Regions from separate parts of the Homo sapiens genome. Here region 1 is linked to region 2. The links come from fine-mapping of genetic effects on gene expression. A gene starts in region 2. The other region holds a variant in brackets. All regions are shown on one strand. Distances are between the middles of the regions.

What was found. PIP is the estimated chance that this variant, and not a neighbour inherited with it, causes the effect.
Region 1: its variant is the best candidate, but not a certain one, in a credible set for the expression of IRF5 in ovary (GTEx, PIP 0.79).

Annotation. Positions count from the first base shown.
Region 1 is chr7:128,251,307-128,256,673 of GRCh38, forward strand. LEP (leptin) reads left to right here. Exons shown (of 3, transcript NM_000230.3): 2 at 685-856; 3 at 3,098-5,367. The coding sequence starts at 713. The coding sequence ends at 3,457. Among named protein-coding and RNA genes, the nearest start is that of LEP, 13 kb to the left of the region's middle. The variant G/A (reference allele first, on the strand shown) is at 2,991.
Region 2 is chr7:128,934,530-128,939,896 of GRCh38, forward strand. It overlaps IRF5 (interferon regulatory factor 5), which reads left to right and starts at 3,398. Exons shown (of 9, transcript NM_001098629.3): 1 at 3,398-3,520. RefSeq lists enhancers at 191-310, 1,726-2,020, 3,688-4,271, 4,305-4,374 and silencers at 441-530, 3,265-4,024.

The sequences.
Region 1 (5,367 bases), 680 kb before region 2:
GCACTGCGTCTGACATATTATTTAGAAGGTCAGTAAGTGCTAGTGGGATTCAGGCTCCCAGTGGGTGGGAGAGAAAGGACGTAAGGAAGCAAGTGGTAAAGGCCCTCACAGAGTATCAGCAGGCTGGTGTGAGGGAGAAATGCAGAGGATGGGTGAGTAGCATAATCGCTAATGATAGGGTAATGATAGAGCACATTTCACAACACCTTTAAGCCCTTTCACGTGCATCAGATAATTTGATCCTCATAAAAGCCTAGAGATAGATATATTACAGGGATGAAGGTGGAGTATTTTGTGGTTATGTGATATGTTTAAAATTATGCAGTGAGTAAATGACTGGGTTCAAACCAGACCTTAAAAGTCTGTTATCTTTCCCTCGAGCATGCAATGAAGTCTACATCATCCCTACCATGTCCATTTGATCACACCCTGGCCTCACAGCTCTGTGGTCTACAGGATACCTCATGGTGGTTTTATTGACCAGACAATAATCCTCTTTCTAAGGGGATGCATTTCATTAATACATATGTAGATCATGAATTGTCTTTGACTTTGAGGGGATGGTAGCCAGAGCAGAAAGCAAAGCTGATTTTCATCCCCGTCTGGTAATGTGGTTGGTAATGTGAAGATGGGTGTATTCTGAGATACCGGCTCCTTGCAGTGTGTGGTTCCTTCTGTTTTCAGGCCCAAGAAGCCCATCCTGGGAAGGAAAATGCATTGGGGAACCCTGTGCGGATTCTTGTGGCTTTGGCCCTATCTTTTCTATGTCCAAGCTGTGCCCATCCAAAAAGTCCAAGATGACACCAAAACCCTCATCAAGACAATTGTCACCAGGATCAATGACATTTCACACACGGTAAGGAGAGTATGCGGGGACAAAGTAGAACTGCAGCCAGCCCAGCACTGGCTCCTAGTGGCACTGGACCCAGATAGTCCAAGAAACATTTATTGAACGCCTCCTGAATGCCAGGCACCTACTGGAAGCTGAGAAGGATTTGAAAGCACAGGGCTCCACTCTTTCTGGTTGTTTCTTTTGGCCCCTCTGCCTGCTGAGATTCCAGGGGTTAGTGGTTCTAATTCTAAACCACTCCAAGAACATTTGATTTTGCTACATGTTTCCATTTAAAAATCATAGGATTTGGGCTGGGTGTGGTGGCTTGTACCTGTCATCCCAGCACTTTGGGAGGCCAAAGCAGGAGGATCATTCGAGCCCAAGAGTTCGAGACCAGCCTGGGCAGCATAGGGAGACCCCATCTCTACAAAAATAATAAAAAATGTTAGCTGGGCATGGTGGTGTGTACCTGTGGTCCCAGCTAGGGGAGGCTGAGATGGAAGGATCACCTGAGCCTGGGAGGTTGAGGCTGCAGTGGGCCCTGATCATGCCACCGTGCTCCAGCCTGGGTGACAGAGTGAGACCTTGTCTCAAAATAAATAAATAAATAAATAAAAGTCATAGGATTTGATCAGGCATGATGGGTCACATCTGTAAGCCCATTGCTTTAGGAGGCCAAGGTAGGAGGATCAGTTGAGGCCAGGAGTTCAAGACCAGCCTGGGCAACATGGCAAGACCTCTCTCTCTAATTTTTAAAAAAATAAAAATTAAAGATAAGAAAAAAATCATAGGATTCTCATGAGGCCTCACGTGCTTATTTTCAACCTACCAAGGGGAAACCCAGGCCTCAGCGATTAGCTGAGCCACATGCAGGCACAGCCACTGTCTCTTTCCTTCCTGTCCCCTCTGTCCCCACCTTCTGCGCTCGCCTTCCTCCCTGACTTCACTTCCTTGAATCTTAGTGCCTACGACCAGAGGGAGCTGTGAAGTTCCTTGTGTCCCATTGGCAGGAACAAGACCCCCAGAAGCATCTCCTCAGGGCCTCTATCCCATCTCTAGATGTGCTTGTCATTAGGGTTCTTGTAGTTCCAGCTGATCTCTGGCCCTGCCGCTCAAAGATACCCAAAAGAGCGAGTCTACCCTTTTTCACATTCAACCCTCTACTGATTTGCAAATAGCAGTCAGTGCCCACCCTGGTCTTTTCTCTGGGGTCCAGCAGGCCTAGACCTTCAGCCATTTTCCTGATGAGGTCTGTATTTGAAATTAGGAAGATTAAGTTTGAATCTTCACACTTCTGATGTCTGTGAGATCTTCAGCAAGTTCCTTACTGTCTTTAAGCCTTGTTTTCATCATCTGGATAATGGGGATATCACACACTATTCACAAGGTTGTTATGAGGCCTAAATTAGCTAAAGCAATTGAATCCTCCTTACCCCCTGCATGGAGCTCTCTGGAGACTTCCACGTCTCCTGGTCATTGTGGGTGTCTTATGGTAGTCTTGGGCAGTTAGGGAGAAGTTAGGTGTCTGGAAGCAAAGATGGCTCAGAACTAGATAGAGTCTTGGGCATTTTATAGATAAAAACTCTTGTCTCCTTTAAAAATAATAAAAAAAAATTAGCTGGGCATATTAGCCACTCAGCAAGACTGCACGTGATAGATCCCGAGTGCCCCACCTTGGGTGGTGTAATACACAATATCACGGGAGCCCCGGGTAGTAACCACGGAGGTGTCAGCCTCAGTGCTGTGGGCAGATGGATGGGGAGAGCCTCCCGGAACTGGAGTCACTGGAGCAGGGTTGGGGGGCCTCACTGAGGGTACGGCCTTGATCTCTAAGGAGGAGGGACTGCCTGGAAAAGCTGACTGGGAGGGAGGACTCGGCTGGGGGTAGAAGGGACTAGGGAAGGCTGGGGGTGGGGGTGCTTATGGAGGACCTCAGATGCCTGGGGAACAGACTCCACTAAATAAAACATATGAAACCATGGCTGGTTCTTCAGCAGAGGCCATGTAGAGAAAGGAATGACCTAGGAAAGTTGGCCTGGAAGTGGAGGGAAGGATGGTGTGGGAAAAGCAGGAATCTCGGAGACCAGCTTAGAGGCTTGGCAGTCACCTGGGTGCAGGATACAAGGGCCTGAGCCAAAGTGGTGAGGGAGGGTGGAAG[G/A]AGGCAGCCCAGAGAATGACCCTCCATGCCCACGGGGAAGGCAGAGGGCTCTGAGAGCGATTCCTCCCACATGCTGAGCACTTGTTCTCCCTCTTCCTCCTGCATAGCAGTCAGTCTCCTCCAAACAGAAAGTCACCGGTTTGGACTTCATTCCTGGGCTCCACCCCATCCTGACCTTATCCAAGATGGACCAGACACTGGCAGTCTACCAACAGATCCTCACCAGTATGCCTTCCAGAAACGTGATCCAAATATCCAACGACCTGGAGAACCTCCGGGATCTTCTTCACGTGCTGGCCTTCTCTAAGAGCTGCCACTTGCCCTGGGCCAGTGGCCTGGAGACCTTGGACAGCCTGGGGGGTGTCCTGGAAGCTTCAGGCTACTCCACAGAGGTGGTGGCCCTGAGCAGGCTGCAGGGGTCTCTGCAGGACATGCTGTGGCAGCTGGACCTCAGCCCTGGGTGCTGAGGCCTTGAAGGTCACTCTTCCTGCAAGGACTACGTTAAGGGAAGGAACTCTGGCTTCCAGGTATCTCCAGGATTGAAGAGCATTGCATGGACACCCCTTATCCAGGACTCTGTCAATTTCCCTGACTCCTCTAAGCCACTCTTCCAAAGGCATAAGACCCTAAGCCTCCTTTTGCTTGAAACCAAAGATATATACACAGGATCCTATTCTCACCAGGAAGGGGGTCCACCCAGCAAAGAGTGGGCTGCATCTGGGATTCCCACCAAGGTCTTCAGCCATCAACAAGAGTTGTCTTGTCCCCTCTTGACCCATCTCCCCCTCACTGAATGCCTCAATGTGACCAGGGGTGATTTCAGAGAGGGCAGAGGGGTAGGCAGAGCCTTTGGATGACCAGAACAAGGTTCCCTCTGAGAATTCCAAGGAGTTCCATGAAGACCACATCCACACACGCAGGAACTCCCAGCAACACAAGCTGGAAGCACATGTTTATTTATTCTGCATTTTATTCTGGATGGATTTGAAGCAAAGCACCAGCTTCTCCAGGCTCTTTGGGGTCAGCCAGGGCCAGGGGTCTCCCTGGAGTGCAGTTTCCAATCCCATAGATGGGTCTGGCTGAGCTGAACCCATTTTGAGTGACTCGAGGGTTGGGTTCATCTGAGCAAGAGCTGGCAAAGGTGGCTCTCCAGTTAGTTCTCTCGTAACTGGTTTCATTTCTACTGTGACTGATGTTACATCACAGTGTTTGCAATGGTGTTGCCCTGAGTGGATCTCCAAGGACCAGGTTATTTTAAAAAGATTTGTTTTGTCAAGTGTCATATGTAGGTGTCTGCACCCAGGGGTGGGGAATGTTTGGGCAGAAGGGAGAAGGATCTAGAATGTGTTTTCTGAATAACATTTGTGTGGTGGGTTCTTTGGAAGGAGTGAGATCATTTTCTTATCTTCTGCAATTGCTTAGGATGTTTTTCATGAAAATAGCTCTTTCAGGGGGGTTGTGAGGCCTGGCCAGGCACCCCCTGGAGAGAAGTTTCTGGCCCTGGCTGACCCCAAAGAGCCTGGAGAAGCTGATGCTTTGCTTCAAATCCATCCAGAATAAAACGCAAAGGGCTGAAAGCCATTTGTTGGGGCAGTGGTAAGCTCTGGCTTTCTCCGACTGCTAGGGAGTGGTCTTTCCTATCATGGAGTGACGGTCCCACACTGGTGACTGCGATCTTCAGAGCAGGGGTCCTTGGTGTGACCCTCTGAATGGTCCAGGGTTGATCACACTCTGGGTTTATTACATGGCAGTGTTCCTATTTGGGGCTTGCATGCCAAATTGTAGTTCTTGTCTGATTGGCTCACCCAAGCAAGGCCAAAATTACCAAAAATCTTGGGGGGTTTTTACTCCAGTGGTGAAGAAAACTCCTTTAGCAGGTGGTCCTGAGACCTGACAAGCACTGCTAGGCGAGTGCCAGGACTCCCCAGGCCAGGCCACCAGGATGGCCCTTCCCACTGGAGGTCACATTCAGGAAGATGAAAGAGGAGGTTTGGGGTCTGCCACCATCCTGCTGCTGTGTTTTTGCTATCACACAGTGGGTGGTGGATCTGTCCAAGGAAACTTGAATCAAAGCAGTTAACTTTAAGACTGAGCACCTGCTTCATGCTCAGCCCTGACTGGTGCTATAGGCTGGAGAAGCTCACCCAATAAACATTAAGATTGAGGCCTGCCCTCAGGGATCTTGCATTCCCAGTGGTCAAACCGCACTCACCCATGTGCCAAGGTGGGGTATTTACCACAGCAGCTGAACAGCCAAATGCATGGTGCAGTTGACAGCAGGTGGGAAATGGTATGAGCTGAGGGGGGCCGTGCCCAGGGGCCCACAGGGAACCCTGCTTGCACTTTGTAACATGTTTACTTTTCAGGGCATCTTAGC
Region 2 (5,367 bases):
GCAGGGGTTTTTAGACAAAGTAGAAATTGTCCACCACTTTATCCTGGCAGGTACAACATGCCCGATAAGCATTGTTGAATGTAGACTCACAGCCAATTCGTGACACTGGTGTCACCATTCTCCTTTACAGATGGGAAATGGGGCTTCTGGGGGAGTGAATGGCTTGCTTAGGTCACGCAATTCTAGATTGCAGAGTGAGGATTTGACTCAGACCTGTTGACCTCAGAGCCTGATGTCCAGCCAACAAGTTCTCAGAAACTCGGGGTTTCTGAGAAATAGGACAGTCAGCCTGGGGACCCCTGAGAGCCCAGGCCGAGGGGGTGGGTTTCCTGGGGTAGAGGTTTTGAGAGGCAAAGGCAGTTGTCATCAACCCAGGCTGCACTGAAGGGGGCTGTTCCAGAGCCAGGGTGCATTGTTCAGCTGCCCAGTGGGCCTCTGGGTTTCTTTCAGTTCCCTTTGGTGACACGGCTTCCCTCCTCCCCCCTGCTCCCCACCCCAGCCACCCCACTCTACACTCGCTCACACAGCGTAGCTTCTACTCGAGTCAGGGGAGGGTGCCTCCTACCACACCCTCAGTCTGTGATATTCCAGCCAGGGGAAATGGGGGAAGGGGCCATCTCACTGTGGGGAGTGGGGGGCCCGGACAGACCTCCCTGTCCCCACCGCCTCCTGGCCCATCAAGGGGAAATGGGAGTGCTCACACAAGGGCCGGGTGTGGCTTCACTTCCCCTCTACTTGCCCTTCCACCCCCAGGATGGCACTGGGAGGCCAAGGGATCCCAGATCCTGGAAACACTGGAGTGCTGCTCTCTGTCCTTCCTTTCTCCTGGGCCATGTCTCTGGCCCCAGATGATTCTTGGCTCAGGTTCTTTCAGTTGAGGGAAGTCAGGATCTGAGCCAAGCTGAGCCCCTGCATAGCCTCTATCCCGGGAGCCCCATATCAATGCTGCCGGCTTGGTAACATCATCCCCCTTTTAGAGACGAGGAAATGAGATTTGAGGTCCTACTTAAGGCCACTTGGCTGGAATACAGCAAAGCCAGGTGCAAGCCCCTTCTCTGCACGCAGCCCGTGCTGCTTCTTGAGGTTCAGAGGCTCTAAGGAAGGGGCCTCACCTGAGCAAGATGGACAGTGGGAAGGGGGCAGAGGGCAGAATTCTAGGGTCTCACGGTCCCTCAGAATGGGTGAGGAGTATTTGATAACAAAAGAAGGCTCTTCTTAGCTATTGCTCCAGATACGACCAGCATAGAATATTTTTCTATTAAGCATAACTGACCTCCAGTGAAAAAGGTTCCCATTTTGTGGGGAGCCACTTTTGAAATAGCAATTTCATTTTATTATTATTATTTTGAGATAAGATCTCACTTCTACGCCCAGGCTGGAGTGCGGTGGTGTGCCTCCTGGGTTCAAGCAATTCTCCCACCTCAGCCTCCCAAGTAGGTGGAACTATAGGTGTGTGTCACCACGCCAGGCTAATTTTTGTATTTTTTGTAGAGACAAGGTTTTGCCATATTGCCCAGGCTGGTCTCGAACTCTTGGACTCAAGTGATCTGCCTGCCTTAGCCTCTCAAAGTGTTGGGATTACAAATGTGAGCCACCGTGCCTGGCCTAGCAATTTCATTTTTAAAGAAAGAAATATAAAACGATCTACCCATTCACATTTTCCCCATCCATACTTTAAATTTTAAAAATATGAAATAATGAAATACTCAGCAGATACAAATAATAAAATACTTATATATAATGATATTTCGACTTCATATTAGGGCTTCAAAGGTCAGGAAAGAGGGAGAGATACAGAAGAGAAAAAAAAAAAACGTTAACACATGAGTGTCTTTTTTTAACTTGTTAAAGGTAAAGTTCAACCCAGGAGAAGGGAGGGGAGGGAAGGTCAAAGTTCTGATTCATCAACAAATACTACTTTATTTGTTAAAAATACAAGGCTCTGCTTGGCGCAGTGGCTCCCGCCTGTAATCCCAGCACTTTGGGAGGCCAAGGCGGGTGGATCGCCTGAGGTCAGGAGCTCGAGACCAGCCTGGCCAACATGGTGAAACCCCGTCTCTACTTGGGAGGCTGAGGCAGGAGAATCGCTTGAACTGGGGAGGCAGAGGTTGCAGTGAGCTGAGATCGCACTGCTGCACTCCAGCCCGGGTGACAGAGCAAGACTCCATATCAAAAAATAAAATAAAATAAAATGAACAATGAAAAGACAGGAGGGAGGTTCCTGAGTAAGCTGATTCGAGTGGAAATCAGACATCAAAATTGAAACCCGCTGAATTTTCCAAAAAGCCAGATGCTCATAGAACTGAAGCTTGAGACACTTACATCAGTACACCTGCTGCCTGTTGACCAATTCCTCTTCCTTGTCCCTCCTGTTTTCCTTCCCTGCTATATAAGCCCCTAACTTTAGTCAAGGGGAGGGATGGATTGGAGGTTTGTCTCCCCTCTCAACAGCTCACTGGCTGATGTCACCGGAATAAAGTCTTCCCTGGCAATACTCGCTGTCTCAGTGATAGGCTTTCTGTGCGGTGAGCAGCCAGACCTGGACCAAACCCCTGGCAATCCATAACAAAATCATAAGCAAAATCAACCAGGAAGCTATTTGCACCCTGGAACCCCACCTGGGAGGGGAAGTCAAGGCAGACTTTCCAGAGAAGGCGATGCTGAAAATTTCAGAAACAGAAATTTTGAAGAGCAAGAGTTACCAAGCGAAGAACATTCCATGAGAAGGAACAGGAGGTGTGTGAAGGTGGAGGTTCTGGGGTGAGGTTCTTTATGGAATCGAAAACGGTTCAGAACCACAGGTCGACGGTCAAGGTAGTAGTGAGAGGAGGTGGGACAGGCGACCACGCCGCTGCCCCTGGGATGACTGGAAGGCGACTTAGGGGAGCTGGGGCGAGACAGGTGCAGGGTTTGAGGATGAGAAAGGCACAGAGTGACTAGAGGATTCCCGCCTGCAAGCACATCTGGAAGGGGTGTCTGGATCCTGGGGGCAGCGACTGTGTTCTAGGGCGAGAGCCACCCTCGCCAGGGGTGTAGGCAGGCGAGAGGAGGGCCTGGAGCTGTGGGTCGGCCACACTGCGCCCTCATTTGTGTGCAGCCCCGGAGGACCAGAGTGGGGAAGCACCCCACCCTCTCCCAGGGCCCAACTGAGCACTGCAGCGGGAGGTACGGGGTTGTCAAATGACAGTTTTGCCATTCCAGATTGCCAAAAGAGCCAGTGGCCAGTCTAGGGCACCGCGCCGTCTGGCATCTCCCTGGAGGCCCTGGGCCTGGCCCGAGGCTCAGCCCGGATCTGCAGTTGCCAGGTCAGTGCGGGGCCCGGAGTGGATTCGCGGGGCGGGGCGGGGCACTGCCCGCGCCCGGAGCTCAGCAGCAGCTGCCCAGGGGCGGGGGCGGCAAGACGCGGAAGTGCCCGGCAGGTTGGCGGACCGGCGGGAGGCGCAGCCTGGGCAGAGCTCAGCTTGGTCCCGCCGCCCGGCCGGTGCTCCCTGGCGCAGCCACGCAGGCGCACCGCAGACAGGTGGGTCCCGGCCGCCGCGCTCTCCTCTCTGCGTCCGCGCCCGGCGCGCCCCGAGGGTGGCGGGAGCGGTGCCGGCTACTGCCCCCAAGTCTAGGCCTAGACTGGGCCCCGCGCCCCCCAGGCACCTGCGGGCGGCGGGATGAAGACTGGAGTAGGGCGGGGTCCGCGTCCAGCTGCGCCTGGAAAGCGAGCTCGGGTGGGTGCCTACAGCAGGGTGCGCCCGGCCGGCCTGGGACTTCCAAAGCGCCTCCCACGCCCCGATCGGTTTGGGGTGCTGGCGCCCGGGGAGCCCAGTGACCCAGGCGGCGGAGTGGGCAGCGCTGCGGGGGGCGCCGGCTCTGCTGCTCTCCCTCCCCCTCGCCATCGCCCAGAATGGGGGTTCCCGGGAGCCCCGCTGGAGGCTGGCTTGGACCACAGAGGAGCGAGGCCCGATCCTTACTTTCGATGCACTCGCCCTTGCTCTTACCGGGCCACCCTCACCCTTTCGGAAAAGAGGTTGAGGTTAAAGCGTTCATCCCCCGGGATCTTCAGGCCAATGGCAGGAACTGTGCAAGAGTTTGGGGGAAGATGGTGTCAGGTAGAGGCTGCGTCCCTGGGCTCGCGGCCGGGAATGGCAGACTCTCGTCCCCCGAGCAGCGGAAAAGGATGGGGCGCAATAGTTCCTGGGCTGGTTTCCTCAGGTCCTGTCCCAGAACTTAAGAAGGCAACAATGAAGAGGCTAAACGTGGAGGAAAAGTGAGGCTAGCATGGCCGGGATGCGTGGGGAGATGGTTGTCTCCGGACCCCGGGAGGGGCGGGAGCGGGTACCTGGGAGCAGAGGCTGGAGTGGGGGACTTTCCCAGCCTCGCGGCCACGCTGAACACAGCAGGGCGAGGACCGGGGTGCTGCTCCTCCAGCAGCAGGAGGAGAGGTCCAGAGGCCGACTCTGGAGGTGGGGGTGGCTCCGCGGGCTGGCCCAGGGGGTGTGCCCCAGCGGAGCACGCGGGAGGGGTGGGGGCGGAGGGGAGGGGGGAGCAGGGGCGGAGGACTGGGCTGGGCCTGGGCTCCTCGAGGGCCCAGAATGGGGATAAGTGACCAGAACCAGAGAGGGCTCGGCTGTATCGATGTAGGAAACTGTAGCCCCTCAGGAGGCCCTCTGGCAAGACCTCCCCTTCCTGCCCCCACCCCCAGTAGTTATGGGGCCTGGGGTGCTGGGGCTGAGGGGTTCCAAGAGTCAAGGGAAGCACTGGGAAATCACCCCTTTTTATCTAAAGGCCCTACTTTGGGGTTTTTCCCCTGTACCCTGGTCTTCCCCTACCCTGACCCTGGGAGGAAGCTGAAAGAAGCTTCTTTCTGGGCACCTTTTGCCCCAGAGCCTCAGCCTGTCTGGACCAGGTGGGCAGCAGGGCCCAGGGTGTGGGCAGCTGACCCGGAGGGGTGGGATTTGGGGGTCAGGGCCTGTACAGGGAACCCCTTGTCCTCTCCCTGAGCTGGGTGTGGGTTTGCAAGGAGACATGTGACCCAGACCAACCCTGGGAGCAGCAGGGCGCCTGCTGTCTGGCCACTCTTACTAGGACTGCTGTGGCACTTCCTCCCCTAGTGGGTCCCTGGTGCCCATGAATTGCAGCTCCTGGGTGGTGGTGGGGGCACTGTCTCCTGGGACTCCAGCATGGCCCTGGGGTGAGCTGTGGGCTTACCCCACCTCAGCAGGTCCTCTAGGGCTGCCCACTGGATGCTTCGCTGCCTCACACAATTGTAGGGACTTCCTCAGGCTGTTGGATTTCCCCACCTTCCGGGGCTCAGGTCCATTGACTTAGGTCTAGGGCTCCATACATTTCACCCAGAGACTCCGGAGCCTGGCAGGCAGA